Linked DNA regions of Homo sapiens: all the other regions are linked to region 3. The links come from fine-mapping of genetic effects on gene expression. A gene starts in region 3. Each other region holds a variant in brackets. All regions are shown on one strand. Distances are between the middles of the regions.

Region 1 (6,590 bases), 29 kb after region 3:
GGCTCAGCTGATCCTCCCACCTCAGCCTCCTGAGTAGCTGGAACTACAGGCACATGCCACCACACCTGGCTAATTTTTTTTTTTTTTTTTGTAAAGATGGGGTTTCACCATGTTGCCTAGGCTGGTTTTGAATTCCTGGGCTCAAGTGATCCACCTGCCTCAGCCCACCAAAATGCTATGATTACAGGCATGAGCCACCACTCCCAGCCTATAGGAGTTCTTAATATATTCTTGATATCGGTCCTTTGTTTGTTTTAAGAGTTGCTAACATCTTCCTCCTTGGTTGTAGCTTATCTTTTCACTTTCTTTCACTTTCTTTAAGCTATTTTTGTTGAACAGAAGCATTTATTTCCATGTCATCAAATCATTAAGTTTTTAAATGTTATGGATAGTGCTTTTTGTGTCTTATAAAATCATTTTCAACTTTAGGGTAGAAAATACACATATTCAATAGTTTCTTCCAATAGTTTTATAATTCTGCTTTTGACATTTAAGTTTATAATCCATCTGTGGTTGATGTATGCATGATATGAGATAGGGGTCTATTTTATTTTTTTCTATATGAAAAGCCAATTTGTTGAATAAATCCTCCTTTTCCCAGTTATCTGTCATGCTAATTTTGTCAGATATAAAAGTTTAATATAGGCCAGGTGTGGTTGCTCACGACTGTAATCCTAGCACTTTGGGAGGCCAAGGCTGGTGGATCACCTGAGGTCAGGAGTTCGAGACCAGCCTGACCAATATGGTGAAACACCCTCTCTACTAAAAATACAAAAATTAGCTGGGTGTGGTGGCGGGCACCTGTAGTCCCAGCTACTTGGGAGGCTGAGACAGGAGAATTGCTTGAACCCGGGAGGCAGAGGTTGCAGTGAGCTGAGATCACACCACTGCACTCCAGCCTGGGCAATAGAGTGGGACTCCATCTCAAATAAATAAATCATTTTTTAAAAGTTTGATATAGTCATACATAGGCTTTGGCACTTTCTTGTATTTCCTTGATCACTTACTCTGTCTCTGTACTGATACCATAAAGTCTTATCCACAAAAGCATTACCATAAGTCTTCACATGTGGGAGAACAACTCTAACCTTGTTATTCAACTCATTTAGAAGTGTTTTACCTATTCTTAGCCCTTTGCTCATTCATTTGTATTTTAGAATCAACTTGTCAAGTTCCTTGGAAAATGTTTGCTAGCATTTTGATTAGAATTGTATTGCCTATAAAACAACTTAGGGATAATTGACATCTCTATTAATTAAGTCTTTTTTGTTTTGTTTTGTTTTGAGGCAGAGTCTTGCTCTGTCACCCAGGCTGGAGTGCAGTGGTGTGATCTTGGCTCACTGCAGCCTCCGCCTCTCGGGTTCAAGTGATTCTCCTGCCTCAGCCTCCCAAGTAGCTGGGATTACAGGCGCCTGCCGCCACACCTGGCTAGTTTTTGTATTTTTAGTAGAGATGGGGTTTCTCCATGTTGGCCAGGCTGGTCTTGAACTTCTGACCTCAGGTGATCCACCTGCCTTGGCCTCCCGAAGTGCTGGGATTATAGGCATGAGCCACTGCACCAGGCCGATTAAGTCTTTCTTTCACTTTATTTATATCTTCTTTAATGTTGTGTAGAGTTTTAAGTTTTCTCCATACACATCTCAGAGATTTTGTGTTAGATGTATTTTTAGGGTAGCTTATATTTTTTCTTTTTTCTCAGAAGGTCCTTGTTGAATTGAGATATAATTTACCTACAGTAAAATTCACCCACGTTAAGTGTGTAAGTCAATGACTTTTAACACATGTCCGCCCCTGTGTAACTGCCACCACAGTCGAATAGGGAACATTTTTCACTCCCTTGACAGGCAATCCTCTCCACTCCAGACCCAGCGATTGATACATTGTTTGTCGTCAGTATATAATAATTTTGCATTTTTAAAAAAGAACTTCATGTAAATGGAATCACAAACTATTCCAGTTTATCTGTCTGGGTTCTTTTACTCAGTATGATGTTTCTGCAAGTCATCTGTGTGGTTTCATGTATTTTTATTGCTGAGTAGTAGCTTTTTCTTTGAAACTTTGAGAATCAGAGTTTCATTGTTTTTCTCTTTCCTCTACTCTTGCCCCACACCAATGAGCTTTTTGGTGAGCCCTTCTCCCACCCTCCCTTTCTTTCTTTCTTTCTTTTCTTTCCTTCCTTCCTTCCTTCTTTCCTTCTTTCTTCCTTCCTTTTTTCTTTCTTTCTTTTCTTTCTCTTTCTTTCTTTTTTCTTCATTCTTTCTTTCTTTTTCTTTCTTTCTCTTTCTTTCTCTTTTCCTTCATTCCTTCTTCTTCCTTCCTTCCTTTTCTCTTTCTTTCTTTCTTTTTCTCTTTCTTTCCTTCCTTCCTTTCTTTTCCTTCTTCCCTCCCTCCCTTCCTCCTTTCCTCCCTCCCTTTTCTTCTCTCTTTCTTTTCTTCCTTCTCTTCCCTTCTCTTCCCTTCCCTTCCCTCCCCACTCTCCTCTCCCCTCCCCTCCCGTCCCCTCCCCTCCCCTTCCTTTCCTTTGTTTCCTACTTGAAGTCTTGCCCTGTAGCCCAGGCTGCAGTGCAGTGGCACAATCTTGCAATCTCATCCTGTAGCCCAGGCTTGAGTGCAGTGGTGCAATCTCACAGCCTCGCCCTATAGCCCAGGCTGGAGTGCAGTGGCACAATCTCAGCTCACTGCAACCTCTGCCTCCCAGGTTTAAGCAATTCGCCTGCCTCAGCCTCCCGAGTAGCTGGAATTACAGGCATGCACCACCACACCCAGCTAATTTTTTTGTCTTTAGTAGAGACAGGTTTTCACTATGTTGGCCAGCTGGTCTCGAATTCCAGACCTCAAGTGATCCACCCACCTCAGCCTCCCACAGTGCTGGGATTATAGGGATGAGCCACCACACCCGGCCTAGCCCTTCACTTTCTACCCTCAGTGATTCCTGAGCACAAAGAGTATTCATGTGTTCTCTTGTCCTAAAAACCACAGCCAGTGGCCCTGTGCCCACCCTCCTGCTTTCAACTATGCTTTCTAGACCCCCTTCTAAGGATGGTGGTGGGTGACTGCCCTTAACCATTGGCTGGCAGCTTGATTCCAATCAAAAGAGGGAAATCCCACAACTAAACAGGGCCATAACTCCCTGTCCATTGGGGAACTCTGGGCAGCCGGGACTTTAGGAACTGCTGAACTTTCTGTTGAGTGGTCTCCAGCTTCCTACAGGGGGCTACTGGGGCAGTAACTGGCCTTAGCAGTTGTTCCCAGAGGGTCCTTCACGGGTTGTCTTTGTCTTTCAGGACAATCCTGAGAAGACAGCTGCATCAGAACAAGGGGACTTTTACATCACAGGGGACCGAGCTCGCATGGACAAGGATGGCTACTTTTGGTTCATGGGAAGAAACGACGATGTGATCAATTCTTCAAGGTCAAGCTGTCTGCACTTTCCTCCT[T/C]CCTTTGAAATTTCATGGGGGTTGAGGGAAGCCCACTTGGAAGAGTTTGTTTTTCCCTTCCAGCTACCGGATCGGGCCTGTTGAAGTGGAAAGTGCCCTGGCAGAGCATCCTGCTGTCCTGGAGTCGGCTGTGGTCAGCAGCCCAGACCCCATCAGGGGAGAGGTAACCAGTGCACCCAAGAACATGGCCTCCTGCTTCTGTACCTATTAGCACCCAGCAGAACAAGCAGGAAGGCTCAGATTGTCCTGTATTTCACCTCCATCCTTGTGCCACAAAGTTGAAATGCCACCATCAGACACACGTTGCCTTCATGTCTTTAGAGATACAATTACTCTCTAAAGGGACATAATGGGAAAACACCAACACTTTGCTTTTAAATGGACACAACTACATCCCAGAGAGGCTGGCTATGGGGCAGGAGATCTTGGGGGAGGTGCAGGCTCTGTTATCCATCCTGTCTAATAAAAAGTCTTTTCTATTTGCAGATGAGGACATAGCAAGCACACCAGTAATAGTTGCTGATGGCTGTAACCTAAGAGGGATAGAATATGTATCCAAAATGACCTACATATACCAGAAAGATGGGCCAAATTTAATAAGCTGGGCTTTCATAGGAGAAATCCTTTTTTTTTTTTGAGATGGAGTCTTGCTGTGTTGTCCAGGCTGAAGTGCAGTGGCATGATCTTGGCTCACTGCAACCTCCGCCTCCCAGGTTCAAGTGATCTTCCTGCCCCAGCACCCCCCCCAGTAGCTGGGATTACAGGCACATGTCACCACACCTGGCTAATTTTTGTATTTTTAGTAGAGACAGGGTTTTGCCTTGTTGGCCAGGCTGGAGGTCTTAAACTCCTGACCTTAGGTGATCCACCCACCCCGGCTCCCAAAGTGCTGGGATTACAGGCGTGAGTCACCGTGCCCGGCTAGGAGAAATCTTTCTGTGGGTCCCAGAGGAATGCATATTATGGGAAAGATCAGCTAACAGGCAGACTTAGGTACTTTTCACTGGCTTACATCCAACATAATCCTAAAGCACAACAGTTACCTTTTGAAAGTTAGTGCAACATTAGCCTGCATTCTCAGAAGCATCAAGACCACAGGAGAGATTCTCAAAGTCTGGTTCTTGGACTGCTTGCAACTGTATCATCTGAGATTCTTGTTTAAAATATAGATTTGTAGACCTAAAGTCAGACTTACCAAATCATGATTACTGGGAATGCAGCCCAGAGAATCTGCATTTTAGCCAGCCATTCTTGGCCAAGTGATTCCCCTCTAAAATCCAAAGCCATTAATGTATAATAAGGGAGGTGTGGAGTCCCATTGATGTGCTGAAGAAATCATACCTCAAACGTATGCCTAGTTCTGCATGCCGTGAGTTAACTGGGACTGTGACAAATGGCTGTGTGCTCAAACTTAATCCATGTATGGTGCTTAGAACTGAGTCTGGTGTGTAGAAAGTGCCCAACACATAAGCCGGACACGGTGGCTCATGTCTGTAATCCCAGCACTTTGGGAGGCCGAGGCGGGTGGATCACGAGGTCAGGAGATCGAGATCATCCTGGCTAACACAGTGAAACCCCATCTCTACTAAAAATACTAAAAATTAGCCAGGCGTGGCGGTGGGCGCCTATAATCCCAGCTACTCGGGAGGCTGAGGCAGGAGAATGGCGTGAACCCAGGAGGCAGAGCTTGCAGTGAGCCGAGATCACCTCACTGAGCTCCAGCCTGGGCGACAGGGTGAGACTCTGTCTTAAAAAAAAAAAAAAAAAAAAAAAAGTGTCCAACAAATGTTTCGTAGTTACAGTAGTAAGAGTAAGAGGAAGCTCTTTCTAAAAGCATATCTGTCTGAACATGAAATGATAGTGGCCTTCCTCCCTGTGGGAAGTATGCAAGGACAGTGAGCTACCCCTTTAATAGAATACTGTTAACAGATAGGAATGCTGGAATTAATAAGCATCCAAGTGACCTTCCATTCCTAACAGAAACTATGTTTGTTGTGCTTGAGTCTGGGACACTTCCTCCTGCCTGGCATAAGACAGCCTGCAGGAAAGTTGTGGGCAGAGAGACCCAAGATGCAGAATGTCCCTCGGGATGTCTGGAACAGAAGTGGTGCAGTTCAGGGTCTGCTGATTGCAAATGTTCATCCACGCAGACCCCCAAAGACCTAGTTCCCCTTGCAAGTGCCTGCATTTTCCTCAATCCCACCTGTTCAAACTCATGCCTACCTACCTTTCTCATTAGGAAAATCTGGAAGAAAATGGCCCTAGGAGTTTATGAACCTCTTTTCTCCAAAATATTTGCTTCTTAAGAGAAGCGATGTTGGCTTCAAATGGTGTCATTCCAAGTATGGGGAGTAATTTGAGAAAGAGGTAGGAGTTTGAAATCATCCCAGAAAGGTCAATCCTCCTAATAGTCACACCTGGAAGGGCCAGCAAAAGAAAAATTGATGTTGTTTGTGTCATTGGCTGTGCCCAAAAAAAACTAGTAGAACTTTCATGGTGCAAAGGTAAATGTAGGCACTTATTCAAGCCTCACTTAAGGAGAAAAGAGTTGTTATACGAGGCCTGATCTTTTCTGGGTATTTTGTTTTCCTGCAGGTGGTAAAGGCATTTATAGTCCTTACTCCAGCCTACTCCTCTCATGACCCAGAGGCACTAACGCGGGAACTCCAGGAGCATGTGAAAAGGGTGACTGCTCCATACAAATACCCCAGGAAGGTAAATATCAGGGTTTCCAGGGCACAGTGATCTGGGAATCAGATGGGCACGCTCTGCCTGGGCTCCCACTCAGAGCCAGGCCCTGTGCCAGGCACTGGGGATATGGAGAAACTTGTAACCCTGGCTGCTGCTTCAGCTTTTTTCTGTATTTCTTCACTTGGATTCTCCCCAAAGCACATTTTGTTCCTACTCTAAGAACAGCCTGATCCCTACCACAAATCAGATACAAGAGGTAGTGCTCAAATGCTGTCAAAATGATCCTGTGCTCCAGGCTCCAGCTGTTTTGCTTCTGGCCATTTAGGGGGAAACCCTGAATCAGGGACGCTTTCCAAGGACAGGCAGACAGTATTGTCTCTTTCAAAACAAAAGTCTTTTTGAGAAATGATGATTTCCAAGTGTTTTTTGTTTTGTGTTTGGTCACTAGGTGGCCTTTGTTTC
Region 2 (11,412 bases), 19 kb after region 3:
GCAGCTTAGGAAGGATCTTGATGGTTCTGGATTTTACTCTGAGTGAGGTGAAAAGCCATGGGAGGTTTCTTTTTAAATCGTGGCTATATATATATATATATATATATATATATATATATATATATACACACACACATATATATACATACATACACATATAAACATATATATACATATATCATAAATGTACCCTTTTAACCATTTTAAGTGTACAGTTTAATGTCATTAAATACATTCACATTGTTGTGCAACCACAATCACCATCCATTTCCAGAATTTACTTTATCTTTCCAAATGAGAACTGTGCCCCCATTACCCAATAACACCCCATTACCCTCTCCCCTCACCCCTGGTAACCTCTATTTTACTTTTCATCTCTGTGAATTTGATACTCTAGGTATTTCGTGTAACTGGCATCATGCAGTCTGTCCTTTTGTTTTGCAATTTGGCTTCTTTCACTTAGCATAATGTCCTCAAGGTTCATCCGTGTCATAGCATGTGTCAAAATTTCCTTCCCTTTTAAGACTGAAAAATATTCCATTGTATGGATAGACCACATTTTATTTATTTTTATTTTTTATTTTATTTTTATTTTTTTGAGACAGAGTTTTGCTCTTTTGCCCAGGCTGGTGTGCAGTGGTGCGATCTCCACTCACTGCAACCTCTGCCTTCCAGTTTCAAGCAATTCTCCTGCCTCAGCCTCCCAGATAGCTGGGGTTACAGGTGCCCGCCACCACACCCAGCTAATTTTTGTATTTTTAGTAGAGACCGGGTTTCACCATGTTGGCCAGGCTGGTCTCGAACTCCTGACCTCATGATCCTCACGCCTTGGCCTCTCAAAGTGCTGGGATTACAGGCATGAGCCACTGCACCTGGCCTCGACCACATTTTAAATAATCCATTCACCTGTTGATAGACACTTGGGTAGCTTCCACATTTTGGCTATTGTCAATAATGTTGCTATAAACACTGGCATGTGAGTATCTGTTAGAGTCTCTGCTTTTACTTCTTTTGGATATACATGCAGAAATGAAATTGCTGGATCATATGGTAATTCTATGTTTAATTTTTTTTGAGAAGCATTGGGTATTTTGAGCAGAGGAGTGACATAATCTAATATGTTTTTTAAAGGCTCACTCAGGATGTTGGGTTGACAATGTAACTGTAGGGGAAACAGGTAAAGAAGATGACCAGTGCATTAAGAGGCAAGCATGGTAGCTTGCCCGGGGAGCAGTAGTGGGAGAAGAGATGAGATTCTGAATGTATTTTCAACCTAGACCCAATAAGGCTTGCTGACAGAATCAGTGTGGAATGAGAAGGAGGAGTCAAGGAGAGCTCTAAGAGGAATGGCCTGAACAACTGGAAGCACTAAATGATGGGGGAAGAACTGTGGGATGAGCTGTCTGGTGGCAAGAAAACAGTTTGTTTATGGAGTTGTCAATTTGAGAGTCTTCTTAGAAATCTCCATCTCCTTGTTAAAAGTGGAGATGTTGAGTGGGCATTTGGATACACATGTCTGAAGTTAATGAGAAAGATTCATGCTGAACTTATCAGTGTAAAGATGGTATTTCATACCATGAGATGGGATGAGATCAGCAAAGTGTAATATAAACTGAAAAGAGAATGGGTCTCAGGACTGAGTGCCCGAGGCATTTCTGCACTGAAGGGGAAGACCAGGAGGACTCAGCAGAGGAGACTGAGAAGGGAACAGCCAATGAAATGGGGAGAACCAGGAGTGCGCGTGTCCCAGGATTCAAGTGCATGACCGCTTTTTATGTCTTCCATGTTTGCAGACACTGTTTCCCATTCCTGGGATGCTCCTGCTTCTCTGCCTCACCTATATAATCCCTATTTATTCTTTATGTCTAACTCAAGTGTCACTTCCTCTACCAGAGCATTTCTCAGAAACCCATGTCCATCATTGCTCTGGGTTAGGTGCCTATTCTCTATAATTGCACAAGGCTTTGTGTTTAGCTCTATTAAAACATGCTCTCCAGGGGCTTCCTATAAGGCCCTCAAAGCAAGACTAATCGTTCATTTCTAGATCCCTAGTGCTAAGTCCAGACTAAATGCTAAATAAATGTTGGCTAAATAAAGTGACCTTAGCACAGAGTATTGAGGTTAATTTTTTCCCCTTATATATCACATCCACTGGACTGTGAACTTTCTGGAAACTCTTTTTGCTTCTGTATTCTTAGCCTAGGGCATAGGTACATGGAAGATGCTGGTTGAGACAATAGTTGACTTGATGGTCTTGTTCAGGTTTCACAAGTATAAGTGAGTACCCACTGAGCAGGGCTCCAAATGTGGTGATATAGATAATACAATCCTTTTTAAAGGTAGAGTCATTGCCAAGGTTACTGACGTTCTCTAATTTTTGGCAGACGGTGGGTGGCCTTGACCGAATCTGACATCTTCTGGAACACGACTGACACTGGCTGGGTGAAGGCAGCCTGGACTCTCTTCTCTGCCTGGCCTAATGGATCTTGCATTTTTGTGCATGAGCTGCCCCGAGTTGATGCCAAAGTTATCCTGAATGTAAGAGGAAAAACCAACAATACCCCATATGTGTTGGGTACAAATGAGATGAGTGGGATATAGATTTCAGACTGCAGGAGAAAACACATAAATCAGTGAATTTAAGGCTTCTTTGGTGTGGCTCCCTGGCCTTCCATAATCTGGTTCCTGACCACCTGGTTCCCTTCAATCATTGCCTATGCTCTAGCTACATTCCTAGATGTAAGACCATTTTGTTGCTATTTCTTTTGCATGGGGTGCCCTTGTTTCCACCACTTTCTTCCCTATGCTCCTGCCAAAACCCTAGGTATTTGTCAAACCCTTAGGCAAAATCAGTCTATGCCTCAACTCCAAATGCTACTGTCCATGGTTCTTAACATGAGTAGTTGGCCCAACTAGAGAGTCCTGGTGACTCCTGCTCAGCCTCTCAGGGTCTTCTCATGGGGAGGGAGGAGATTGGTGGCCCCAGTCAAGACACAGGTCACCTTTCTTCCACCCCCCACATCCTGTCATTCCTTAAAATGTCAGAGGACACTTCTGCTCATATTATTTGTACTGAGATAAGCTGTATCACATGGTAGCTAACTGCATAGGCTGTGCCATCAGTCAAAGAGTCAGACCTGGACTCTGATCCTACACCTTTGATTCGCTAGCTGTGTGGCCTTGGGGAAGCTGCTTAATCTCCTGAGCTGCAGTTTCAGCCTCATCTGTAAGAAAGGGATACATTTCTCTATAGATTTGCTGCGAGAATGAAATGATACAAGGCAAAGGGGCCAGCACATCATAGGTTCTTTTTTGAAATAATTTTTAATTTTTGTGGATACATAGTAGGTGTATATATTTATGGGGTACATGAGATGTTTTGATGTAGGCATGCAATGCGTGAAAATCACATCATAGAGAATGGGGTATCCATACCCTCAAAGCATTTATCTTTTGTGTTACAATCTAATTATACTCTTTCAGTTATTTTAAAATGTACAATTAAGTTTTTATTGACTATAGTCACCCTGATGTGCTTTAAAATAACAGGTCTTATTCATTCATTCTATTATTTTGGTACCAACTAACCATCCCCACCTTTCTCCCAGCCCCCGACTACCCTTCCCAGCCTCTGGTAATCATCCTTCTAATCTCTATTTCCATGAGTTCAATTGTTTTGACTTTTAAATCTCACAAATAAGTGAGAATATGTGAAGTTAGTCTTTATGTGCCTGGCTTATTTCACTTAACATAATGATCTCCAGTTCCATCCATGTTGCAGCAAATGACAGGACCTCATTCTTTTTTATGGATCCATTGTGTATATGTACATCTTCTTTTTCCATTCATCTGTTGATGGACACTTAGGTTGCTTCAAAACATAGTAGATTCTTTTTTTAAAAAAAAATTATTTTCATAGGTTATTGGGGAACAGGTGGTGTTTGATTACATGAGTAAGTTCTTTAGTGGTGATTGTAAGATTTTGGTGCACCCATCACCTGAGCAGTATACACTGCACCCAATTTGTAGTCTTTTATCCCTCACCCCCTTCCCACCATTTTCCCCAAGTCCCCAAAGTCCATTGTGCCATTCTTACACCTTTGCATCCTCATAGCTTAGCTCCCACTTATGAGGGAGAACATAAAATATTTGGTTTTCCATTTCTGAGTTACTTTACTTAGAATAATAGTCTACAATCTCATCCAGGTCCCTGCGAATGCCATTAATTCATTCCTTTTTATGGCTGAGTTGTATTCCATTATATATATTTATATACCACACTTTCTTTGCCCACCTGTTGATTTATGGGCATTTGGGTTTGTTCCACATTTTTGCAATTGCAAACTGTGCTGCTATAAACATGTATGTGCAAGTATCTTTTTCATATGACTTCTTTTCTTCTGGATAGATGCCCAGAAGTGGGATTGCTGGATCAAATGGTAGTTCTACTTTTAGTTCTTTAAGGAATCTCCACACTGTTTTCCACAGTGGTTGTACTAGTTTACATTCCTACCAGCAATGTAGAAGTGTTCCTTGTTCACTGCATCCATGCCAACATCTATTATTTTTTGATATTTTGATTATGGCCATTCTTGCAGGAGTAAGCTGGTATCACATGGTGGACCAAATATAGTAGATTCTTAACCCATATTGATTGTTATCATCATGATCAAACTCATCACCATCATTATCCATGTAGTGCTTGATCAGCCAATGTATGGACCTTCTCCTTGCACTGTCCCCAGCTCTGATATAGTGTTTTCATTATCTATTGCTATGTAATAAATTATACCGAAACTTAGCACTTTAAAACACAAGCATTTATCTCACAGTTTCTGATGGTCAGGAAGCTGGAGGTAGCTTAATGAGGGGTTTTTGGAGCAGGGTCTCTCATGAGGTTGCAATCAAGAGGTCAGCAAGGTATGCTCATGTTCATAGCAGCATTAACAATAACTAAAAGGTGAAAGCAACACAAGTGTCCATCCACAGATGAATGAATAAACAAAATGTGGTGTATATGTACAATGGAATATTACCCAGCCTTAAAAAGGAAGGACATCTTGTTGTATGATATAACGTGGATAACCCTTGAGGACATTATGCTAAGTGAAACATGCCAGTCATACAAGGACAAATACTGTATGATTCCACTTACATGAGATTCCAAGAGTAGTCAAATTCATAGAGACAGAAAGTACAATGGTGTTTACCAGGAGTTAGGGGAGAGATTAATGGGAAATTATTGTGTAATGGGTACAGAGTTTAAGTTTGAGAAGATAAAAATAGTTCTGGAGGTGGATGGTAGCGATGGTTGCACAACACTCTGGAAATGTTTAATCCCACTGGACTATACACTTAAAAACCGTTCCAATGGGCAAATCCTATGTTGTGTGTATTTTGCCACAATAATTTTAAAGAAGATATTTGCTAGGACTGCAATCATCTTAAGGATTGACTGAAGCTGGAAAATTGCTTAAAAGTTCACTGGTGGCCGGGCACAGTGGTTCATACCTGTAATCCCAGCACTTTGGGAGGCCAAGGCGGGTGAATCATGAGGTCAGGAGTTAAAGACCAGCCTGGCCAGGATGGTGAAACCCCGTTTCTACTAAAAATACAAAAATTAGCCGGGCCTGGTGGTGGGCACCTGTAATCCCAGCTACTCAGGGGTCTGAGGCAGAGAATTGCTTGAACCCGGGAGGCAGAGGTTGCAGTGAGCTGAGATCTTGCCACTGCACTCCAGCCTGGGTGACAGAGTGAGACTCCATCTCAAAAAACCAAACAAAAAACAAAACAAAAACCTCACTGGTGGTTTTTAGTAGACTTCAATTTCTCACTGGGTGTTTGCTAGTCTCCAGTTTCTCACTGTGTGCACCTGTCCGTAGGATGGCTTGAGCATACTCAAAACATGGTGGCTTGCTTCCCCCAGAACAAGGGATCCAAGAAAGGCAGAGAGAAAGAATATCCAAGACAGAAGCCATAGTCTTTGTATAACCGAATCTTGAAAGTGGTATTCATCACCTTGGCAGTATGCCATTGCTGTCACAGACCCACTTTGGTATGAGGTGAGAGGGGATCCTCCAAAGGTGCACATGCCAGGAAGTAGGAGTCACTGGACACCATCTTGGCTGCTGGATTCCACACATAGTTTTCAGCTTCTCTGCTTTGGTACTGAGACTATAAAGATGCATTTGGCTCCATCTTCATGGTCCCACCCCAATGATTCTAAGGACATCTTTCACCCTTTGTTTTTGTTTAGACTCTCTCCAAATTCCCGATAACCACCCTCTGCTGTGTCCCAACCATCTTTCGGCTGCTTGTGCAGGAGGATCTGACCAGGTACAGCCCGTCTATTTCGTGCTTTGAGGGCCTAAGTATGTGAATATATAGCATGGGTATCCACACACACAACTACCCTCTCATTCCAACTCTCTTTCTTTCTCTGTCTCTCCCTCTATATATTTTTCTGCCTCTCTCTTTGTCTCTCTCTCACACACACATTTATACACGTACACATTGACAAGTCAACATACCTGTAAATCTCACAGATGCCCCTCAAGAACAAGCTTCTGGCCCCCCAAAATTTGCATCCAGATGGAACTAAATAGATTTAAGGCAGACTGAAATTTTAGCACCTGAGATAGGCTTCTCCTCACACCATACACCCATGGGCTATTCTGTCAGCAGTGTGTCTGCTACTTCTGTGAGGCGAGAGAAATGATTGGAAAATTGTTAGCCACCTGTGGAGTGGGGTCTGTGGCCAGGGCCCTCAGGTGTGGTGAAACTAACAAGCCCGCACCGCAGTAGATGCCCCAACTCTCAGCCTCAGACTAACCCCAGCCAACTGTTCTCTGAGCACATGCCATTGGGCACCCAAGAGAAAGGGACAAGGCACTGATGATGGCTCCATCCTGGGTGAAGCCAAAGCAACATCTTCTAGCAGAACAGGGCTGGTTGCTGGGGTATATGGAGAGAGGCCCACTGTCCTTCAGTATCCACCAACCCTGACCTGTTCTCCCTCTTTTGTCCTCCCGTAAGTCATGAGGAGTCGTCCTCTCATCTTTCCTAATCACATGAATCTACCCACCAAGTGTCCAAAAAAGGGAGTTCTTACATGCTTCTAAAAGTGAATTCTTCTCCAATGTAAGAAAATCATCCCATTCATTGATCTGATGTGTGCATCTCCACATGATGATTTTGGCTGAAAGCAAGCTCCAAGTACCTCGTTAAGAACAATGTCGTTGAATGCTCTTTGGTAATAATAAGTAACTTAATCAAGCCAATTTGATCTCCCCTCTCCTCCAAGATTAAAAATGTACTTGCAGTCACTGTTCTTTTTTATAATTTGGATGATTTGTTGAACAGAGAGGGCATTTTGCAACATAATTAATATCTGTAGGAATTTTTGGGATTCTTAGGGGTCTAATTTTTATCTTTTCCATTTTCTTTTCTTTCCTTTCTTTTCCTTTTTCTTTTATTTTTATTTATTTATTTATTTTAGAGACAGAGTCTTGCTCTGTTGCCCAGGCTGGAGTGCAGTGGCATGATCTCAGCTCACTGCAACATCTGCCTCCCAGGTTCCAGCTTTCCTCCCACTTCAACATTCCAAGTAGCTGGGACTACAGGCATGTGCCACCATACCCAGCTAATTTTTAGTATTTTTCGGTAGAGACGGGGTTTTACCACGTTGACCAGGCTGGTCTTCAACTCCTGAGATCAAGCAATCTGCCCACCTAGGCCTCCCAAAGTGCTGGGACTACAGGTGTGAGCCATGGTGCCTGGCCTATCTTTTCAATTTCTAATTCATCTATCCTTTTCAATCAGATTACTGTCCTAACCAATTTATTATCAGTTTTTTTCCAACTAAATTATTTTGGCCAAGTTACCTGGAACTCACCATATTATGCCAAAACCTATTATATGAGCTTCTGATTTTATCTCAAACTCAGATAGGATGGATCTTTTAAAAATTATCTGTCCATGAGGAGCATGGTTGCAAAGCCAGTGGGTGGACTCACTTAGAGAAGATTAAAAAGCAGGGGCATCTACCCTCTAGTGCCTGTGGTGTTTGCATCTGGGCAGTGGCACCAGAGGGCGGGGTGATATGAAGATCCTGACATAGGTGGCCTTGTTTTCCTGTCTGAGAAAGGTACCAGTTTCAGAGCCTGAGGCACTGTCTGACCGGAGGAGAGGCCCTCAACCCTGACGTGAGGGAGAAGTGGAAACACCAGACTGGTGTGGAGCTGTACGAAGGCTATGGCCAGTCTGAAACGGTGAGTGCTGGAGGGGCCAGGTCCCTACCCCCCAGGTCCCCTCGAGAGCTTCCTGCCTCTCCGGCTGTCACCTCCCTGAAGCTTCTCAGGGACCACCCTTCCCCCAGGGGAGAAGCTGATAACAAAATTCCATCAGCTTTCCTTCCCTTT[T/G]GATTTCCATATGTTCTCACTTATAAGTGGGAGCTAAGCTATGAGGATGCAAAGACATACAGAGTGGTATAAAAGACTTTGGAGACTCAGAAGGAAGAAGGTGAGAGGAGGGGCGTGAAGGTAAAAAAACTACGTATTGGGTATAATGTACACTACTCAGCTTACAGATGCACTAAAATCTCAGGATTCACCACTATAGAATTCATCCATGTTACAAAAAAACGCTCGAACCCAAAAAGCTATTGAAATACACACACACACACACACACACACACACACACACACTACTTATAAATTAAAAAAAGGTAATTTAAAGTACTTTTACAATTATACCATGACCAGCAAACCAGCCCTCACTGCTGAAGGCATTGTTTGTCTCCACCAAGACAGTCTACATCTGCCACTGTTCAGAGTCCAAGATTCTAAGCAGCGTCCTCTATAGTCATCTAGGAAGAGATCTGGGGATCAACTGAGTCTTTTGGCTTAGAGATGGGTTAAGTTCTTTATGTTTGAGTGCCCACTGGAGTGCCCCATAATTGTTTGTTAACTATGGAAAGAAAAGAAGAAAGACAGGCAAGAAAGAGGGAAGAAAATAGGAAGAAAATGAAGAAGGAAGGGAGGGAGGAAATAAAGGAAAGAGAAAGGAAAAGAAGGAGGAAAGGAAGGGAAAAAGATGAATGGAAGGAAGGAAATAGGGAACAAAGAAGAAGGGAGGAGAGAGGAAAATGGAGAATGAAATAACGGGGAAAAGAATGAAAAAAAGGAGGAAAGAAAATGAAGGAGGGAAGGAAGAAAACAGGAAAGGGGAAAGAAAGGAAAGAAAGAGGAAAGGAAGGAGTGAGCAAGGAAGAAAAAAGAAAAGAAAGAAGGGAGGAAGAATGGAGAGAAATGGAGAGAGGAGAAGGGAAAGAAAGAAGAAAGTGAGGGAGGAGAAAAAAGAGGATGAGAGAAAGAGTTATCAGGCAGGGTGAGAGAAAGGCATGGCCCAGGAAAGAAGCTAAGTGGAAAGGCTCTTCTTTATCTGTACTGCGTTCTCCCCAGGTTGTCATCTGTGCCAATCCAAAAGGCATGAAAATCAAGTCTGGATCCATGGGGAAGGCGTCCCCACCCTACGATGTGCAGGTAGCAGCCTCCCCCAACTTCTGGCAAGGCCTGGCATGGAGAGGAGAAAGACACACAGGCCTGGTTGGCACGGGCTGCTGGGCTGCTGGGAGAGGCCCAGGGTGTAGACACTCACGTATGCACCTCTGTGATGATTTCCTTACCAGATTGTGGATGATGAGGGCAACGTCCTGCCTCCTGGAGAAGAGGGGAATGTTGCCGTCCGTATCAGACCCACTCGGCCCTTCTGTTTCTTCAATTGCTATTTGGTAAGAGACGGGGAACAGCCGTTCTCATGACAGTGACTGTGTGCTAAGCATTGTGCACCACACTTTGTAAATATCTATTTGTTTAATCCTTACAATGACTGCATGAGGTAGGTTGCTACTATTATTAATAAAGTTCTGTTATTGATAAGGAAGACTATTATTGATAAGGAAGCTACTACAAAGGGGAAGTGACTTATCCAGCATCATGCAAATAGTACAGGCAGGACATGGGATTTAAATGTGGGTGTGTCTGAAAGCGTAAACATGACATGAGGGCAGCACTGTTGTTTTAATGAGGTGAAAATCGAGGTACAGTAAAGGAAAGGAGCTTCTGAAGGTCAAACTGCAGCCGGGTGCAGTGGCTCACATCTGTAATCTCAGCACTTTCAGAGGCCGAGGCAGGTGGATCACCTGAGGTCAGGAGTTCAACACCAGCCTGGTCAGCATAGTGAAACCCCGTTTCTACCAAAAATACAAAAATCAGCCAGGCATGGTGGCGCACGCCTCTATTCCCAGCTACTTGGGAGGCTGAGACAGGAGAATTGCTTGAACCAGGGAGGTTGCCGTGAGCCAGGATCATTCCACTGCCCTCCAGCCTGGGTGAGGGAACGAGACTCCGTATCAAAAAAAAAAAATAATAATAATAATAAAATAAATAAATACATAAAGGTCAAACTGCACTATTGTGTCAGAGCTGTCTTCAGGATTCTCTTTGTGGTTTGCTAGCAGGGCACAAACCTGGGATTTCAGTCCAAGTTTCTGGGATAATTCAGTAACTGCTTCTCTTTTGTATTCATCTTGGGTGGTGTTTATGTCGGGCTTTCTTTTCTTCACAGCTTTCTCTATAAAACTCTCAGACCTGGCTGTGCATTAGAAACACCTGGCAAGCCTCAGTTATTGCTGATGCTTGAGCCCCACCTCAGCTTAATTAAAATCAACATTTCTGTTGGTGTGGATCAGTTTCCCAGGCGATTCGAATGTCAAGCCTGAGAGCCACTGCTTAATAGAAATGCCATCTCATGTGTCTACTAAGCTGTCAATCAGCTACAGAATTAGAAGGAGCAGAAATAAATCAGTCCATTTCTTTTCAAAATGTTGCATTTTAGTGGTTTTTCTGTCACTACAAGAGAAATAATCTTCTACTTTATTTTGTTTAAAATCACAGAAACTTACAAAATCCCACAACATAGTAATCATGCCAAGCTGAGATCATGTTAACATTTAATGTATTTTCTGCTAATCAGTCTTGGAAGCAATAGTAAATCTTTGACCCCACTGAAAAAATGCATTCATTCATTATTTATTGTCGACTTCGTGCCGCTCGGTGTGGAGCAGGACTCTGGTACTTAGTGTGGAGCAGGACTCTGGTACTTACTGCACTTGTACACTTTCTTTCTGGTTGTGAGATTGTTCCACTGAGTGTACTAAAGTAATTTGAAAAGTTATTTGCTAGACAACAATCTAGTTTTTTTGACTGTTTCTTTCCGTCACCTGTACCAACAGTTAGTTTTCTTTCCAGATCATTCTTTTTTTTTTTTTTTTTTTTTTTTTTGTGACAGTGTCTTCTCACTCTGTTGCCCAGGCTGGAGTACAGTGGTGCGATCTTGGCTCACTGCACTTCC
Region 3 (11,412 bases):
CCTGCTGCTGTTTTTTCTCCCAATCTCTCCCACAATACCTGGCTCAGCTCTGCAGCATCCCAGGGCTCCCCTGAGACTGTAGCATCCACCCTGTCCAGCCCTGGGACTGTGCTCTCAGCCATCCTGCCTGCAGCCTGCCCTGACCTGCCCCTTTATTCTCTCAGCCTTGGCCCTTGGTTCTGCCGGCACCTGCCTTTCTAGCCTGACACCACTGTGGCTCCGCTGTGTCCCCCAGCCTCACAAAGTCCAAGCTCAGCTCCAACATCAGCTCCCTACCCCCTACTCAGAGGAGAGTGGCTGTCATGGGAAACTTTTATTAATGAGAATAGCCAAAATCGAGGGGCTGGTCACCAGCCATATTGTGCTGAGTGTCAACTGTGTGCATTCCCTCCACATTCTCCCTGTGTGCATTCTCCCTGTATGCCGTGGAGAGACCCCATGTCCCAGCCACTGTGGTTTCCCGCCAAGAGGGTGTGGTAACCTCCTTACTGATCCTGCCTCTGCTTCTACTCTTTGTGCTTCACCTCAACCCATTCCCCACACAACAATCAGACATTTCCTTTATTTTTATTTTTATTGTTTGAGACAGAGTTTTGCTCTTGTTGCCCAGGCTGGAGTGCAATCACATGATCTTGGCTCACTGCAGCCTCCGCCTCCTGGGTTTAAGCGATTCTCCTGCTTCAACCTCCCTAGCAGCTGGGACTACAGGCACCCGCCACCATGCCCGGCTAATTTTTGTATTTTTAGTAGAAACGGGATTTCACCATGTTGGCCAGGCTGGTCTCAAACTCCTGACCTCAGGTGATCCACCTGCCTGGGCCTCCCAAAGTGCTGAGATTGCAGGCGTGAGCCACCGTGCCCAGCAGAGATTTCCTTTCGACACAGGAATTCCATCACACCACTGTGCCTATCAAAAGGTGCTCACTTTTGTGCAAAAAAAAGCTTCTGCCTCTTTTTTTTTTACAATCCATTCGCAAAACCGCACACCAGCCAAACTGTTCTCTGTGGTCTACCAGGCCCCACTGGCTCTGGACCCATCTGACCTTATCGCCCTCCTCTCTCTCTCTCCTCCCGCACTCTGGGGAGCCACACTGGCCTCTTCCCTTTCCCAAGCACACCCTACCCGGGGCCTTTGCCTCTGTCTGGGGCACCCTTCCCTCACATCGTCAGCCTTTTCTGGTTCTCTGGGTCCTAGCTCGAATCCACGCTCATCAGAAGGGTCTTCCCGGGCCACTCTGTCTCACCCCATCTCAGCTTTCAGCACTCTCTGCCATATCACCATTGTTTGCATCATATTTTGTATTATTATTTATGAGTGTACTTTGTTGTTGTTGTCATTTTGAACTTTTTAATGTAAATACCATTGTTCACAGCTGTTTTCTCCCCTTCAGAACAGTGCCTGTACCAGATTTGGAACTCAATGAATGTTTGTTGAATGAATGAATGAATGGCCTAATTTAACTCTTACAGCAAACCCCATTGGTTCATTTCAGTGGTTCTCAACCATGACTATGCTGAGAATCTCTTGGAGAGTTTAATAAAAAATACTGATGTTCAAACCCAAACCCAGTAGGTTCTAATTTAATTGATCTGGGGTTGGGTGAGTCTGGGCATTATTATTATTTTTTAAAATCCTCAAGTTGATCCTAATGTGTAGCCATCTATACACCAAAACTGACACTTAAAACTTAAACTGGTGACTCCTGGTAGAGAAAAGCCTCCCAAGGCAGGGCCCATCAGTCAGATTTCCCATTTTCACTGAAGCTCATACCTGCAGGAAGCCAAGGCCACTCCCAGGGTTCCTGGGGCCAAGGTGGGGCTGTGCTGGGGGTGGGGCCACAAACTCTGTGGCCCTTAAGAAGGAAGGTTGTAGCCTGAAGAGGAGGCTCCTGGCTTCTCCTTGTGATCAGGGCAGGACCCGCAGACGACTGGGCATTCTAAAGAATCCACAGGCAGAAATGAAGTCCCTTCCTGGGCACACAGAGGCCACAGCAGCCTCAGCAGCAAAGTTCTGAGTTCTGGGGTTCTAGAGGACCAGGGGTGACCCTGTAGAAGAATGGGCCATTGTTGAGTAAGAGGGGGCCCTGCCTGGCAGCCCTTGCTGAGTTTGCTTGAGGGGCTAGAAACAAAACTCAGTGTGGGGTGCTGGGTATGGCCCAGGAGGGCTCTGAACTCAGTGCCTATAGATTGGAATTTGAATCCCAGCTCTGTCTTGAACAGCTGTATGGCCTTGAGAATGTCACTTACTCTTTCTGAGGTTCAGTTTCCATGCCTGTTACATGGCATCTAACTCATGGGGGTGTTGTAAGCAAAGTAAATTATGTGGAATTTAGAAGATAATTAATGATATGAAGAAAAATAAAACCTGGAAGGATGATGAGGAACGCCTGAGAGGGGGATGGGATAAAATAAGAGGATTTATGCAAAACGAGCAGCTCAGTACCTAGAAGGCAGGAGCCCCTCACGCATCACCACCCTGGCCTCATCTCCTAGGGGAGAAAGATCTCCACTCACCCTGCTCCAGCCACACTGGTGTCCCTGCCAGTCCTCCAATACAATGTCTGGGCCTCTACACTTGTGGTTTCCCCTGTTAGGGAGGCTCTTCACCCAGGTGGACTCAGGGTTCACCCCTTAGCTCGTTCCAGTCTTTGCCCAAATGTCACTTCCACAGTTGGGCCTTTCCTGGCCACTTTGTTTAAATTTGTAAGTGCCCCATCCCCCTCTCAGGCGTTCCTCATCCTCCTTCCAGGCTTTATTTTCCTTCATAGCATTAATTTTCTTCTAAACTCCACATAATTTACTTTGCTTACCTGGTGATAGGTGCTCAGTAAATATTTGTTGAATGAATAAAGAAAAGGCTGTTGATATTATTAGCATCGTTATTACTGTCAGAGTTTGCAGCCTTTGGCTATCTGCTGCCCAACTGTTATTAAATACTGATGGAGATGACTAACATTCATTTCACTAAATTTTAACATCTGTGGGTTTTAGTCCTAGCGCTTTGCTCTTCTCTTTCTTTTCTTTTTCTTTGAGACAGTGTAGTGGCGCGATCTCCACTCACTGTAGCCTTCACCTCCAGGGTTCAAGCGGTTCTCCTGCCTCAGCCTCCTGAGTAGCTGGGACTACAGGCATGCACCACCACGTCTGGCTAATTTTTGTATTTTTAGTAGAGACGGGGTTTCACCACATTGGCCAGGTCGGTCTCAAACTCCTGACCTCAAATGATCTGCCTGCCTCGGCCTCCCAAAGTGCTGGGATTACAGGCGTGAGCCACGGCATGCGGCCCCACTCTTCTCTTTCCATACTTAACTTCCATACTTTTGTTGGCTTGTTTAAATGCATGACTTCAAATACACCCCTTTATAAGTTACTCTCTCATTTACTCTCCAGGATTTGATCAATTGATTACATTTACTATTAAGACCGTTTTCCATCTGCCTATTAGAAAAGCTCTTTTTGGTTGAACCACACTCACTGAATATCTGAATGTCTTAATTTGAACTCATCATGTCCCTTTCAACTTTTCTTGGCAATTATTCCTTTTCTGGATGTTGTGTTTGCAAATAATTCCTGGGATGTGTTTGACTCTTTTTTCTCCCAGGCCTAAATCAACAATCTAGTCTGGCATATATTATTTTGACATCTTTCACACTTGTCAACTGTTAGTCACAAACTAAAACACTTGGGTTATTATCCCAAATGTCCTTCATTCATTTTCCTTCACTCTTGCACACAGTTGTTTCTTGACATAACATAGGCACTTTTATGATGATACTCATTTACTGATAAAGCTGCTGCTGCTTTTTTTTTTTTTGACAGAGTCTTGCTCTCTTGCCCAGGCTGGGGTGCAGTGGTGCAATCTTGGCTCACTGCAACCTCCGCCTCCTGAGTTCAAGTAATTCTCCTGCCTCAGCCTCCTGAGTAACTGGGATTACAGGCATGCACCACCACGGCCGGCTAATTTTTGTATTTTTAGTAGAGACGAGGTTTCACCATTTTGGCCAAACTGGTCTCAAACGCCTGACCTCAGGTGATCCACCTACCTCGGCCTCCCAAAGTGCTGGGATTACAGGCGTGAGCCACTGTGCCCGGCTTAAAGCTTCTTTTTATAAAATAACATTAATTTCTTTCTGATTAGAAAAGAACAGGATTTAATTTCTAAAACATAGAACATACAGAAAAAATGAGTTAATTGAAATCATACATCATCTTACTTAGAGAAACATTCATATTTTGTTACGTATGGGATTAATATATACTTTTTAAAAATAAAATTGTGATTATATTGTCTATAAAGTGTATCCAGTTCTTTCATTGAACATTTATGAAACATTTGTCATGACTTATGATTATATATTCTTCTAAAAAGTACTGATTGAGAGTAACGATATTGAGATTAGACTGCTGGAGAAATAATGTTCAACAGTCCGTCCACCCCTCTGAGGGTAGAGATTGTATCTTTACATCTGGCTGCAGATTCAGAGATGAGGTTGTATCCTGGGTCGCAGTAGAGGACTGAATGCTGAGCAAATGGACATTGAGGGCTCATAAGATGGTTCCCTGTGGCCAAGCTTGGCGGCAAGGGAGAGGAGCTGCCTGCGTGGAAATGGGCCAAACTGGCCAGGCCAGGAAATGAGACAGAGTCACAGGGGAACAACATACAGTGATGGATAAAAATCCAGGGTGAAGTTTGAATCACTGCAAAGATAGGCAGTTAATGGCTCAGCATCCTCTCTATAGGACACCCATAACCCTGTCATTTGCAACAACATGGATGGAACTGGAAGTCATTACATTAAGGGAAGTAAGCCAGGCATAGAAAGCAAACATTGCACATTCTCGCTTACCTGTGGGAGCTAAACAGGAAAACAAATGAACTCATGGAGACAGTAGAAGGACGGTTACCAGAGGCTGGAAAGTGTTGCAGGGAGTTGGAGGAGAAGTGGGGATGGTTAATGGGTACAAAAAAGTAGTAAGAGTGAATGAATAAGGCCTAGTATTTCCTAGCACAATAGGATGACTATCTTCAAAAATAATGTAACCATACACCTAAAATAACTACAATAGTATAAATGGATTGTTTGTAACACAAAGGATAAATGTTTGAGGTGATGGACACCCCATTTACCCTGATGTGATTCTAACGCATTGCATGCCTGTATCAAAATATCTCATGTAACCCATAAATGTATATACCTACTATGTACCCACAAAAATTAAAAATAATTTAAAAAGAACTTCAGAGAACAAACAACAAAAAGACCGGTATGGCTGGAGCAGACTGAGACAGGAGGTTTGAGGCGAAAGGCTCACAGGAATTCCTGTGGGGCCCTGTAGGCAATTGCCAGGACTTTTTTTTTTTTTTTGAGACGGAGTCTCACTCTGTCTCCCAGGCTGGAGTGCAGTGGCACGATCTCGGCTCACTGCAACCTGTGCCTCCCAGGTTCATGCCATTCTCCTGCCTCAGCCTCCAGAGTAGCTGGGACTACAGGCGCCCACCAGAGTAGCTGGGACTACAGGCGCCACCACGCCTGACTAATTTTTGTATTTTTAGTAGAGACAGGGTTTCGCCGTGTTAGTCAGGATGGTCTCAATCTTCAGACCTCGTGATCCGCCCGCCTTGGCCTCCCAAAGTGTTGGGATTACAGGCGTGAGCCATCCCACCCGGCAATCGTCAGGACTTTGGCTTGGACTGTGAGTGAGATAGGGAGTTGCAGGAAGCTTTTTCGAAAAACCACCTTTGGGCCAGGTGCAGTGGCTCCCACCTATAATCCCAGCACTTTGGGAGGCCAAAGCAGGCAGATCACTTAAGGTCAGGAATTTGAGACCAACCTGGCCAACATGTTGAAACCCCATCTCTACCAAAAAAATACAAAAATTAGCCAGGCATGGTGGTGCATGCCTATATTCCCCGCTACTCGGGAGGTTGAGGTGGGAGGATCGCTTGAACCCGGGAGGTGGAGGTTGCAGTGAGCCAAGATTGCGCCACTGCACTCCAGCCTGGGCGACAGAGCAAGAGCCTGTCTCCAAAAACAAACAAAAAAACCCAAAAAACTTCTTTTGGCAGTGTACAATTATTATTACTATTTTTTGTAGTAAATTTACAGAGATCTGCAGTCATGACCACAATCCAAATTTAGAACAATTCTATGACTTCAAAGGGATGCCTTAGAGCCGTTCCCTGGAACCACTCCTCTGTTCTCTCTGTATCTACTGGAGGGTTCTAAGCAGAAAAGAAACAAAGTCTGACTTATATTATTATCACTATTGCACCTTTTCTGTTAAAACATCATAATCCCAGCACTTTGGGAGGCCGAGGCGGGCGGATCACGAGGTCAGGAGATCGAGACCGTCCTGGCTAACACGGTGAAACCCCGTCTCTACTAAAAAATACAAAAAATTAGCCGGGCATGGTGGTGGGCGCCTGTAGTCCCAGCTACTCGGGAGCCTGAGGCAGGAGAATGGCGCAAACCCGGGAGGTAGAGCTTGGGGTGAGCCAAGATCGCGCCACTGCACTCCAGCCTGGGCCACAGAGGGAGACTCCGTCTCAAAACAAACAAACAAACAAAAAAAAAAACCCGTCATAATCTTCCTGTTGCTTTTTCCGATTAGATGGCGACTTGAATTTTTAGGGAATACATCCACCAGTTTGGGCACACCCACCAGGCACGACAGTTGAGGTCTGATCTTCCAGCCACTGTGAGTACTGAGAAAACTTGGCAGGGGGCCACTCTCACTGGCTCAATGCACCCTGACCACTGGAAGCCACTGTGTCAGCTGCTGGGTTCTGGCTCTGCCCACTCTTGGCTGCATTTGGGGCTGAAGTTCCCTGTGGGAGGCTGTTTTCTGAGGGAGCTGAGTGTTTACAGCCACTCAGCCCTGCTCTGCTCAGCTGAAGCAGAAAACAGAGACCTTTTGCATTACTTTGGTTCAAGAGCAAGGTAATTTGGAAAGAAATTTTTCAGACGAAGGTATCAGCTGCCTCTGAGGCCTTTGCTGATTAAATCAAGAAGTGACATCTGAAATGGTGTCGGGGAATGGGAAGGAGGCCTGGGGATTCTAAATTATCAGCTGTTTAGGTGGCTGAGGAATCCAGGGGTGGGAGACTGAGGAAAAGGACTGGGGCAGAGCTCAGTTCAGGAGAGGTGAGGGGCGGGAGAGGTGAGGGGCGGGAGAGGTGAGGGGCGGGAGAGGTGAGGGGCGGGAGAGGTGGGTCAGAGAAAGGAAGTCTCTGAGGCTGCAGGCCTAGGCCTGGTGGCCACTGCAGAGGCTGGGGCCTATGTTTTTCCAGGAAGTGAAACCTGAAAGTCACTTTTCCCCTTTAAGCCTCATTTTCTTTATCTTTAAATGGAGAAAATAACATTTACAGCATAGAGTTGTTATAAAGATTTCATGAAATAATGCCTCTAAGCACTCTTAAAATGCTTGGTACACAGTAGGCCTTCAATAGACTGAAGCTGTTATGGTTTTTCTTGTTGTGCCACGTTATTATTGTTGGTTGTTATTACCATATTTTGTTATTATTATTACTAAGAGGAATTTAATGCAAGGAAACTGAAACTGAGGTCACACGCAGCTCCCGGGCCAGTGCCTCTCAAACTTTAACATGCATATGACTCATCTGAAGATCCCGTTAACTTGCAGATTCTAATTCTACATATGTAGGGTGGGGTCCCATCTGCTGGTCCCAAGATCACACTTTGAGTAGCAAGACACTAAAACTGGGCTGGGCACAGTGGCTCACATCTGTAATCCCAGCACTTGGGAGGCCGAGTTGGGAGGATCACTTGAGGCCAGGGGTTCAAGCCCTGCCTGGGCAACATAGTGAGATCCTGTTTCTACAAAAAAACTTTTTAAAAGTTAGCCACACATGGTGGCTAGTGCCTGTAGTCCCAGCTACTAGGAAGCCTGGGGTGGAAGGACTGCTTGAGTTTGAGGCTGCAGTGAGCTATGATGGCACCACCGTACTCTAGCCTGGGCAGCAGAGTGAGACTCTGTCTCAAAAACAACAATAATAAAAATTTTAAAAATAATAAAATTAAATAAAAAAATTAAAAAGACACTAAAAGCCCATCATGCCATACAGCAGCCACTTGTGGCTTTTGAGCACTTGAAGTGTGGCTAGTCCAAATTGACATGTGTTTGTAAGGGTAAAGTCTATTTCAGATTGTGAGGACTTAGTACCAAAAAAAACAAAAAATAAATAAAAGTATGTAAAATATCTCTTTAACAATTTATTCTTCTATTGACTAGGAATTGAAATGGTCATACTTTGGCTCTATCTGGTTAAATAAAATGTTTTATTATAATAAATCTCACCTGCTTCTACTTTTCTTAATGGAAGTACTAGAACATTGTAAATTGCACAGGTGGCTCACGTTCTATTTCTGTTGGACAGTGCTGCCCTAGAGCTGTCTTCAGCTTTGCAAGGTCAGTTCAGGATTGGCCAAAGCCTTTTTGAGGGATTCCTTTTGAAGTATTGAGGTTTGAGAAGTGGGATCTGAGTTCTGACCTCAGACCCAGATACCCACAAGTCAGTGAGAGGTCAAAAGGACAGACCTCGGGGTCAGAGGAGAGAAATGACCATCACACAGCAGAACTGAGACTGAAGGTGGAGAGTTTATTCTACAAGTCAGTAAGGATCACAGTCACCATCAGCACTAACCACAGGTTTCTCCTAACCTATGTGTTGTCCCCAAAGCCCAGAATTTATGACAATGCCCTCTTTCCTCTCTTTGGTGACAGACAGGAGGCGACTGCATGAGACCATGGCTGAGACACCTAGTCCTCCAGGCACTGAGGAACTCCAGGGCATTCTGTGGGTCTCATGGGAAGCCAGCACCTCTACCTGTTCCTCAGAAGATCGTGGCCACCTGGGAAGCCATCAGCCTGGGAAGGCAGCTGGTGCCTGAGTACTTCAACTTCGCCCATGATGTGCTGGATGTGTGGAGTCGGCTGGAAGAGGTGAAGCCTGTTCTGTCCTAGAGTCCATCTGGGGCATCTGAGGCTGCCCTCATGTACCACAATGAGACTCAAGGCTCCAAGCATGTTGATGAGGAAATTTGGACCTGGGAATTTTGCTAGTTCTAAAATGTAAACTGTTGGCATTTGAGACTTAGGAAAAAATTCTGAGTCAGTGTTGTGAGCCTTAGACATGCTTGTTCCTTCTCTGAAGTGTCCTGCATTCTTGAGCCCAAATCACACAGTGAGACAGTTATGTCCCTTCCGATTCCCTTCCAGTTGTTCATCAACTGAAGGAGGAAGTTTTGTTTTGCTGCTACTCTGTCTTTGATGTTTTTCTCTCACTGTCACGCCCTTCTCTTCTAAATAAGGAAAGAAGGCCGGGCGCGGTGGCTCATGACCATAATCCCAGCACTTTGGGACACCGAGAAGGGCAGATCACCTGAGGTCAGGAGTTCGAGACCACCCTCACCAACATGGTGAAACTCCGTCTCTACTAAAAATAAAATAAAAAAAAATTACCCAGGCATGGTGGCGCACACCTGTAGTCCCAGCTACTTTGGAGGCTGAAGCATGAGAATTGCTTGAACTCGGGAGGCAGAGGTTGCAGTGAGCCAAGATCATGCCACTGCACTCCAGCCTAGACAACAGAGTGAGACTCCACCTCAAAAAATAAAATAAAATACAACAAAACAAAATAAAATAAGGAAAGAATAGGGCTCAGGCTCAAAGCTTTTTGCAGATCATAACAGATACATAGAATTGAATAAGATAACCCTGATTTCTTTGTGTGTCTCTGTGCATCTGCTTTCTTCTTTATTTTCCCTTATATCTGTGTCTGTTGGGTCTCTCTATTTCATGGTTACCTTTTATTTGTGTTACATGATACTAACTTTTCATTTATAAGAGGAAGACATACTTCTAAAACTGTATTTCAACCAATGTGAAGCTTAACCAATGAGAAAAGCCTTTTCCCTAGGGGTTTTTGTCCAAAACAATTACGGACAAATGTTTAACTTCATTGTTGCCTAAGGTGGTGGATAACAGTAGGCACAAACAATAGATTCACCAAAAAGTGAAAAAAGAAAAGCTGGAGAATACAAAACTGGAAATATAAAATTTAATTCAAAGAATTGTATTCATGTTAATTATAAGAAGAGATTGTTTAAAGAAAAAATATGAAGTAAATGGCATTGTTAGTAGATACAATAAAATTAACTGTCAGCAGATGTAGTGAAACTTATGAAGGTGGTATGAGGATGACTGAGACTTAAAAGCAGGATTTGCAGTCAGATAGACATTGTTCATCCGTGTACTTGAAGTGTGACCTTGGACAAGTGCCCTAAGTTCTTTAGATCTCAACTTTCTCATCTGTAAAATGGTAGTCAGACCATATGCTACTTAGAGTAATAGTGAGAATTAAATGAGAATTGCATGTAAGACATGAAGCCAGGATGCTCCATTCCTGATGGCCTGCAAAAATCTAAGTTCTTTTTGCAATACTAGGGGTATCCTTAGAAGACTTCTCCTAATGATAAAAACAAGCAAGCAGGATTAAGTCAGGAAAAAAAATGGTAGAATAAGGACTTTCCAGCTATGTGGTAGCCTTGAAAAATAACAGCCCCCATTTCTGGTGCATCACGGCAACCATTAGATGGGCCAGAATGGAGTTGGAGTTTTTTCAAAGCTTCACTTATGAAGAACTGTTGTTATTTGAGCTGCCCATTGGTTCTTTGGAAGACCCTACTTGTAAAACTGTATTTGAATCAACTTGAAGCTCAACCAATGAGAAAAGCCTTTTCCCTGGGGGTTTTTGTCCAAAACAATCACAGACAAATGTTTTAGCTTCATTGTTGCCTAAGGTGATGGATAACAGTGGGACAAACAATAGATTCACCAAAGAGTGAAAAAAGAAAAGCTGGAGAATCCAATGTCTATGGGAGCTTTAAAAAATTCTATTGTATTCCTGGAAATCTAGAAATCAACACACCTAAGTAAGGCTGTGTGCTTTCCTAGGGCTTTGCACACGCTTAGAAAAGATCTGAGGAAACTCTAAGCTCGCACTTCTGGCAGACTGAGAGTTGGAGCATGCAGGAAATTAACACTAAGGCAGGATTGTTAATTGCCTGGCTGAGTGCTAAAGGTGTGCCCCAACACCCACCCAAAGACTGGGAGATTTATTGGTTTCAGGCATTTAAAGATATTTCTGTCTAATCATAAGATGACTACTAAGCTAACCAAGTAGATATCTCAGTGGCCACACAGAACAAATAATGCAGACTTCACAGAAATGGTTCACAAAAATCACTAAACAAATGACAACAAGCAGCAACAGCAAACCAAACTCTGGGGAGTTGTGGGGAATGGGTGGGGGTGGATCTGATTTCCTGAGTAATCACATGATGTAATTTTAAATTTATAGTTTTCAACAAAAATTTACAAGATACGCAA

Evidence for each region. PIP is the estimated chance that this variant, and not a neighbour inherited with it, causes the effect.
Region 1: its variant is fine-mapped to the expression of ACSM5 in lung (TOPMed, PIP above 0.99).
Region 2: its variant is fine-mapped to the expression of ACSM5 in lung (TOPMed, PIP 0.93).

What each region holds. Positions count from the first base shown.
Region 1 is chr16:20,433,768-20,440,357 of GRCh38, forward strand. ACSM5 (acyl-CoA synthetase medium chain family member 5) reads left to right here. Exons shown (of 14, transcript NM_017888.3): 11 at 3,285-3,412; 12 at 3,501-3,600; 13 at 6,033-6,152; 14 at 6,577-6,590. Among named protein-coding and RNA genes, the nearest start is that of ACSM2A, 14 kb to the right of the region's middle. The variant T/C (reference allele first, on the strand shown) is at 3,438.
Region 2 is chr16:20,421,532-20,432,943 of GRCh38, forward strand. It overlaps ACSM5 (acyl-CoA synthetase medium chain family member 5), which reads left to right. Exons shown (of 14, transcript NM_017888.3): 6 at 2,385-2,538; 7 at 6,257-6,336; 8 at 8,147-8,270; 9 at 9,462-9,542; 10 at 9,689-9,790. Among named protein-coding and RNA genes, the nearest start is that of ACSM5, 18 kb to the left of the region's middle. The variant T/G (reference allele first, on the strand shown) is at 8,421.
Region 3 is chr16:20,402,725-20,414,136 of GRCh38, forward strand. It overlaps ACSM5 (acyl-CoA synthetase medium chain family member 5), which reads left to right and starts at 6,810. Exons shown (of 14, transcript NM_017888.3): 1 at 6,810-6,941; 2 at 8,746-8,964. The coding sequence starts at 8,761. PDILT (protein disulfide isomerase like, testis expressed) reads right to left here and starts at 2,013. Exons shown (of 12, transcript NM_174924.2): 1 at 1,772-2,013.